Linked DNA regions of Homo sapiens: region 2 is linked to region 1. The links come from fine-mapping of genetic effects on gene expression. Tissue or cell type: sigmoid colon. Region 1 holds a variant in brackets; the other region holds the start of a gene. All regions are shown on one strand. Distances are from middle to middle.

Region 1 (4,246 bases):
AGCTGAGGCGGGAGGATTATTGAGCCCAGGAGGTCGAGGCTGCAGTGAGCTGTGATTGCACCACTTCACTCCCTGGTGACAGAGACCCTGTCTCACAAAAAAAGAAAAAAAAAGTGGAGCATCACTTCATTCTCAGTCCATTTTTAAGGGCAAACGATGCTTCACTGTTTAATTCAATAGTTTTAGCAAAACATAAACTAAAGGGTTTATACTATGGTATTATTGACTTTTACCTTTTGGATAGTTCTCTGAGAAGTTAAATACTTGAGTGAAATCAATATCCACTTCCATGGTTTGAATAGAAGAATGCCAAAGAGTCTTCTTGTCCGCTATTATTTCCCCTACAATTTTGTAGAGCCCATGGAACCCTATCTGTGGGCACCATTCCATAAACTACTGTCAATGCTTATTTTAAAAAATGGGTACTATAACTTTCTGGTTCTCTCCTCAATTCCATCCTAAGTCAGACTAGGATCTGTAAGTGCTAAATTCAATAAGATATGAATGATCAGTTGTTTTGAAAAGGGAGGGGCAGAAGCAGGTAAGGGCATGGCCAGGAACAGGATTTCAAGCTTCTGGATGACAGGACTCAGTACCAGTGTGTAGCACGGGCGACACCCAATGCACTTTTAGTTAGCTGATTACATTGTGCAACTCTCACTTTACAGAGAAAAGAACTAACGAAGAAACCTGGGGGTGCCGACTCAAGATAGGCTCACTATGGGCATTTCCCCTTTATCATTGCCATAAGGTTGGATGTAATCCCTACCCATCCTGGTTTCAGTGAGACTCCTTCAGTCTCAGCCTACTGCCGACACGAGTCAGGGGTGAATGCTTCTAGGCTGCTCATTTGCTGAGATTGTGAAACTCTCCATTATGCAGCACACGCTCAGACCTGCCTCAGGACTGTCCTTTGGGGAGCTGCAGAACTGCAGCCAGGCTATCCCCAGAGCAGGTGGGGAGGACCTGAGAAATGTCCCTTGATTTGGAGGGCCTCAGCAGAGTATTTCCAGCCACTTCTCCACCCCTCTGTGCTCTAAATACAGAAAAGGGGAAGGCGCTTGTGTGTCCCCTGATAACTGCAAATTCACTGATTTCCTCACAATTCCCACAGCCCTTGCCTTAGTTTAGGCCATGAATTAATCTACATAGAGGGCTAGAGACTAAGTGCCATCTTAGCATTAGCTATTATCATCCAACCCCTGGACAATGGAAATCATCCTTTAACCCGCCTTCCAAATCCAATCTTGCCTCCCTCCAACCTTTCCTCTATCCTCTACCACAGGTTCTTCCAACTCTTGGTGACTCCCCTTTCCTTAAGGGTGAAGCCCACCCTTTCAAAGGGGCATACAAAGATCTCAATGATGTAGATCGAATACTCTCTCCATTACCACCTCTCGCAACTCCTGCCATACCTGTCCGCTGCTATCCATTCTTCCCACACACTCTTCTTTTGTACTTTAGAAGTACAGAGCCACCTGGTGGTGGTCTGGATGCACTACGCTTAATACCATCTATGCCATTGCCTTTGCCTGGTAGATTATGCAGAGAGCTGGCATTTGTTGAGTGTTATATGTCCCAGACACTTTATTTATATTAATTTGTAATACTACTGTATATGTAGTATCCCATTTAATTTTCACGGCAATCCTATAAGGTTTATATATTAACAGACGAGGAAATTGAGGTATAGAAAAATTAAGAAATTTTCCTGCGATCTCAGAGCTTGCAAATGGTGGAGCCTAGAGTTAAATCCAAACCATGTGATGCCAGAGCTCGCCCTATTAATCTCTATGCTCTGCTGCCTCTTCAAATCGTAGGTGAGAGAGATTAACCTGATATGTTGCATTGAATTTGTAACAGTAGAAAGAGACCCAGAACTGAAAATCATTTATCTAGGTTATGGATAGTAGCCTTAAAACGGGAAGTTAATAACAATGACACACTCAAGGTCATAATGAGTTAAAGTTGAAATTTCTATTATATTTTAGAGGACAAACTATTAATATATTTATGAGCTTTGTTCTTAGAAGATGTAATACATTGTGAACAAAGGTCTTTTTTCTTTATGAGAATTCTCTCTTAAGATACTATCACACTTGAAAAGAAATAAGATGCAAAGTTTCAAGGCTTTTTAGAGGGCAAAAAGGGTAAGTTCTAGAACTTTCTCACCGTCAGACCTGCAATTCCAATACCGACAATTCCAATGAGCTGGAGCTTAACACTGATTATGGTCTCAATTTCATCGATGCAATTCTGTTTTGAGGAAAAAAAGTCGGGAATAAAAACTGATTGTATGTGTCAGTCATTATCCTGATCCTATCCTTTCCATCTCTACAGTTCATTCTGTGAGAGTTAATCCATGCCAGCTTCTACTCATGTTTCAACAATTCATCTTTGATAACATCATCCTAATAAGCTTAA[T/C]GCAAAAATGCAGTTTGGGGAAAAAAATAGAAGCCTCTCCTTTGGGTGAGATTTTCATGTTTAGGCCAGTGGCTTCTTCGGAGCCCTGAAATATAACTGGAGGAAGCTATTTGTCTGGTTCCAAGGAATCTAAAAATTTGGAGCCACTTCTTACTTGTAGCAAATAAGTAAAATACCCTTAAAACAATAACTCTTTGTTTTCATATTGTCATTTACAGTTTAAAATACTTTCTATGTCTTTGACCCAATTTACTATGCAAAGTAGGCATGACCTATTAAGAAACTAAAAAGTCTTAACAGGTTCAAGTTAAACAAAGGAAAGCCAAGAATTAGAAAAGCCAAGTCTTGGAGCTAGAGGACCATTCTCTCCTGTGGTGGCTGGGCTGGGCTGTGCTGGGTGAGTTCCTATCCTTTCATCTGTGCCCATAAGACACCTGTGCAGCATAGATTCAAAGGGCCTTCATGGATGTGGGGAAACTTAGACAGAAAGCCAAATAGATCACCTGTAACTATTATTAGTTTCTCCAACTTCAAACACTCCTATTTGGAGTGCTCTTAAGTAGAGGGATGCTCTCAATCCAACTGTACCCTCAGGTTGTTCAGATCTGTTCACTTGTCACTGGTTGGTTCCTTTGATACCATCTGAGCTATATAAAACCCTTACTTCTCTCTTCGTATTTCCTATCACACTTCATTCATTCAACAAACATTTCTTGAGCATCTACCTTGCATTAGTCACTGGAAGAGGGGTGGTAGATGCAGAGACAATAGGATATGGTTTCTCCTGCTTTCTGGGAATTCACAGTTTAGAGGACACAGATCCACAAGAGATACCTATAATGCATTCTGACAAAAGTTTGAAAACTACTCTTCTAAGGAGTGGCTCCCTTACTTAGTGGAAAAAATGAGAGTCAACCTATAGCAATTCTTTCACTCTTCCTCTCCTTCTCCTATACACTTAGATGCTCCCTTCCTTCAGTGCCAGGCATTGCTGTAGGTAGCAAGCACACTCCTGACTCCTTTTTCTCTGATCAGAGCCAAAGAGGTGCCCTTCTCTGTTGAAAGTTAACCTCATGGCTGGGCGCGGTGGCTCAAGCCTGTAATCCCAGCACTTGGGAGGCCGAGATGCGTGGATCACCTAAGGTCAGGAGATCGAGACCAGCCTGGCCAACATGGTGAAACCCCGTCTCTACTGAAAATAAAAAAATTAGCCGGGCATGGTGGCACCTACCTGTAATCCCAGCTACTAGCGGGGCTGAGGCAGGAGGATCACTTGAACCTGGGAGGTGGAGGTTGCAGTGAGCCGAGATCATGCCACTACACTCCAGCCTGGGCAACAGAGTGAGACTCTGTCTCAAAATAAATAAATAAATAAATAATAATAAAAGACAGTTAACTTCATATCCTGCTTTGGGTCTTTCAGCTCCTCAGGAAGCCTGCACTGCCAGTTACTTTTTTTCCTTCCTATACATTCAGCCTCTCCTTATCCATTGACATTTCTACTTATCCTATCACCATGCTCAGTTCTTCAATCAAAACAAACAAAACAACACTCGAGACTGTCCTCCTCTAGTTCTGCCATTAGGCCCTCCTTCCCTTCATTGCCAGCTTCTTTTTGTAAAAAACAAATGTACAAAAGGTATATTGGCTTTAGTCACAAAAGGAATACATGCTTCTTGTAGAAATCTGGAAAAGAGATTTTTTTTTTTTTAAAAAGAAATGTCTGTATTCTCACCATAAAAGGTAATAAATTTGTTGGTGATACTTACACACACAAACACACCTACACCCTTAGGTCATTCTTTATATTCAACAGTGAGCT
Region 2 (4,246 bases), 23 kb before region 1:
TAGCAAGAAAATCACTACCCAAATGCATGGTATTTATTATAGTTCTTTTAGTAACAGGCCAAGTGTCTATCAGTTGTCCATTACATATGTACACACACACATACATACATATATCTCCCAGGGATAGGTATATAAATCCGCTAGAAAATGAGTTCCTGAATCAATGCTTTATACAAAGGAGGCACTAATTCCATTAGAAACACACATCCAACATTCTTCCATTTATCATATTCCTGTGTTAGCATCTTGTCTGAAATTAGGTTGGCACACTCATTTCCAGTTTCCCTGTTTTCAAAATTATCTTACTACATAGTAGCTCACATTCCCAAGACCTTGGACCCTGGCATGGCCATTTCTAGGTATATATCTGTTAAACTAAATGTGGCCTGAGGATACCTCTGTTTTGTGAGTTCCTACATAATGAACTGCAACCTAACTTAGTATGTACACTACCTGAAAGCCTAACTTAGGAGTATACTTTTGTAACAGACAGCTGAATTTCAGCTCATCACAGCAGCTGAGCTTCAGTCAATTACAGGCAGCCAGCTGATCAGACTTTGTCCAAGTAAGGCAAGTGCTGATGTATAATGAAATCAAGCTGTTTCGATATCTCATTTCTACTTTCTGTCCATAAATGCTGTCTGCCCACATTGAGGAGCAGAGCTCTGTGAATCTCTTCTGATTCTGAGGGCTGCCTGATTTGACAATCATTCTTTTTTCAATTAAACTGACAAAAACAAGCAATGGGGAAAAGATTCCCTGTACAATAAATGGTGCTGAGATAACTGGCTAGCCATATGCAGAAGACTGAAACTGGATCCCTTCCCTACACCATATAGAAAAATCAACTCAACGTGGATTAAAGACTTACATGTAAAACCTAAAACTGTAAAAACCCTCGAGGATAACCTAGGAAATATCATTCCAGATGTAGGACCGGGCAGAGATTTCATGACGAAGACGACAAATGGAGTTTCAACAAGAACAAAAGTTGACAAATGGGACCTTTAACTAAAGGGCTTCTGCATTATGGCCCAGAAACTTTCTCCAGGCAGTTTCTCCCTGTTTGTTTCCCATCTCTCTAGGATCGTGTACTTTTGTTACCTGATGTAACAGGAAAAGAAACTATCAACATAATAAACACACAACCTACAGAATGGGAGAAAATATTTGCAAACTATGCATCTGACAAAGGTCTAATATCCAGAATCTATAAGGAGCTTAAACAATTTATAAGCAAAAACTGAAGAACCCCGTTAAAAAGTGGGCAAAAGACATAAACAGACACTTTTCAAAAGAAGATATATACATGGCCAATAAGCATATGAAAAAATGCTCACACCACAAATCATTAGAGAAGTGATATTACCTTTTAATAGAAACTGAAGAGGTCAAGCATGCCAATGTCATATGGCAAGTAAATGGCAGGGCCAAAATTTTATCTCAGGTCAGCTTGACATCCTGTCAGATGTGGCCATGTTCCTCAGAGTCATTCTTTCACATGTGTAAATTTTACTTAATATCTTAAAATCCCCCAAAAATATTTTGAACTACACATTTTGTTCTAAACAAAATTTTTAGATGAGGAATAATTTTATATATCTTTACATGAACATTTAGGTAAAACTTGAAGCCCTCAAGCCCCAAATAAATTTTTATTCCCAAGACTTATTTAGATGATGTTAGAGTGTTTTTTGAATTTGGTTTTTCCCATTCTGTATCTATCTTTTATTAATATTAATAAATAAATATTAATAAAGAATATATTTAAAAGGTAATTTTATTTTGAAACAGAAGAGAGGAAAATGCATGCTTTAATAATGTCAGTTTCCAGGTAAAGATATTGTGAGCTTGTTTGTCTAAATACATTTTATTTGGAATTCAGTATGAATTTTCAATAGATGCTTTTCAGATAAGAAAGCAGTAAATCAAATGCAATTGTATAAACAAGAAGATCAGAGGGATTATCCTGAAGGGTATAAAATGAACCAAGAGCTTTTAGTTTGGGTCACCACAGCATCTGCTCACCAATGCAAAGTAAGGTAGGTGTCTATAGTGAGAAGGCTCTGTGAAATGATATGTTCTTAAGCTATTTTTTTTCACTTTCACCATTTTATCATTTTTTAGAAAGTGGCAAATGCTGAAAGATAATTTGCTTCAACAGGCTGTAATATCTTAAATTACTGCTCCAAATTGTTTAGTAGTAGATGGAGGTGAGAGAACTACCTACATAAGGATAAGGAAAAAATTCATTGACTTAAAGAAAGAGAAACAACTGATTAGTTCCCTAATGAAGGATATTTGATATTCATGGCTTTCTTCTGTTTTCATTTTGATTTAAATATTGTTGTCCATTTAATGATGTGTGTATTAAATCCTCTCAATTACTGTACTAATGGCCATCTTTTATGAAAATGTACTTCCGGGAATGTTAGAGCAAATTCATTTTTGAGTACCTGCTGGGGTAATGTACTCTGTATTATAAGTTCTTTTTAGTTATTTAATAGCTAAACCTCCTTTGATAGTGTTCAACACACACACAGCTGCTGTATAGTACATTTTGCTTTCTAGAAAAATATACTGCTTTAGTGAAGTTCCAGGATTATTCATAGGATGGGCAATTAGTTCTTTTCATAGTAAGGGATTTGGAGAGTAAAAATTAATGAAGGAAATTAGCAGAGCAGAGAGGAAAGTGTTTATTAAGAATGAAGCATTGGGAGCAAAAATAAGAGAAAAAAAGAGAGGAAAGAGGCAAAGGAAAGAACATATCTTGGAATAAGAAAATACGTTCAAAGTAGGGACATATATGTCCATGCATCTGAAGAAGGCATCTCATTATTTAGGCCCTGCCTGAAACCATGCCTTCTATGTTTAGGTACCCAACAAATTATTCATGGTGATTTCAGAATAAGCAATTAAGTGGCAAAGATGAGAACCCAGATGACAATGAGGAAGAAATTGTGGCATATCACAGAGGAAGGGATTAACTAACGCGGATTTGTACAGTGTTATACAGCTATGTGATCTTTCTTATATAGAGAGCCAAGTGTTTCACATGTATTGTTTTATTCTTTTTATGATTTTAGGAAGGGACATATGGAAAAATGAAGGCACAAAGATATTAAATTGCTCAGTTGCACACAATTACAATTAAATCCTTAAGTAGAATTTAGATCACTAACTCTTAATCAATCAATCAGATCTGACACTAATTTATCATATAGAATTACAGACTATTTGTGCTGCGAAGATTTTCATGATCATCTTCTGGCTCTAAGCCCTGCTTTTATAGGTGAGAAAGTTGAGGCCCAGAAAGATTCTGTGGGTGAAGTTTTACTATTCGCAATAAAGAAGTAAAGGAAAAGAAAAGTTCTTGCTTTCTTTATGCCCACAAAGTTGTACAGATACTGTGGCTGGTAATTCAGCACTTCCATTTTCTACTTTTGTTAGTTTAGAGTTCTACATTTATAGGAGAAACTTCAAAAAAATATAGAGTATCCATAGTTAGTATGACAATAGGAAAACCAAAACAAATTTTCATCCTACATTTTAAAAAGGGTCAGGTGTACTTGTCACTTTCTATTTTGCAGATGGGGAAATAACACTCAAACAGATTATATATTTTAGTCAAGTTCTCATAGATTTATGGAAGAATTCTGTTTCTTAATTTTTAGACCAATATTTTCATCACCAGGTCACCACATTGATTTTATACAGAATTATAGAGCTAAAAGTTAAAATATGTGAAGTTAGTTGTTTCCTATAGAAAAAACTCAGTAGCTGGCTGTCTAAACAAGCAAGAACTATAATGGCCATGATGGGTAAGCATTTTACATAATTTACCAGTTAGTAATTTTAAGATCCTACAGAGGATCATCAAGTTCTGTATCTCTAAAATACTGGAAGCAACTCTGTACCATAGAGGGAGCTCACATTTGAGAAGCGCTTGAGAAAGCCAGATTCCATGAGTAAGGAATTTGTATGTTTTTGCTCCTTAACTCAAATACCAAACAAACCTTCCGTGGAATGTTTGAATATGCAACATTTCATTTAAAAGAATTTGTGAGAAAAACCCCTGTTATTTTAACCTTTAAAAGTTAAGTCTTCCTAAAATGGGTTAGTTTACTTTCTTGTGTAATAAGAAGTATAGTAAACATAAATCTTTGATAATTGTAGGTCTTAAAGTCTTAATTTGGACTCTTTCAGAGCACTAGAACAATCTGCGTTTTTATTATTTGTGTTCATA

Direction of the effects. Alleles are on the strand shown, and positions count from the first base shown. SD is a standard deviation of normalised expression in the study named.
In carriers of allele T in region 1, the expression in sigmoid colon of the gene that starts at base 2,008 in region 2 tends to be lower than with C alone (small effect, 0.40 SD a copy in GTEx).

The links. PIP is the estimated chance that this variant, and not a neighbour inherited with it, causes the effect.
Region 2: it holds the start of TSHB, and the variant in region 1 is the best candidate, but not a certain one, in a credible set for the expression of TSHB in sigmoid colon (GTEx, PIP 0.51).

Annotation. Positions count from the first base shown.
Region 1 is chr1:115,051,207-115,055,452 of GRCh38, forward strand. It overlaps TSPAN2 (tetraspanin 2), which reads right to left. Exons shown (of 8, transcript NM_005725.6): 7 at 2,173-2,256. Among named protein-coding and RNA genes, the nearest start is that of TSHB, 24 kb to the left of the region's middle. The variant T/C (reference allele first, on the strand shown) is at 2,425.
Region 2 is chr1:115,027,819-115,032,064 of GRCh38, forward strand. TSHB (thyroid stimulating hormone subunit beta) reads left to right here and starts at 2,008. Exons shown (of 3, transcript NM_000549.5): 1 at 2,008-2,042.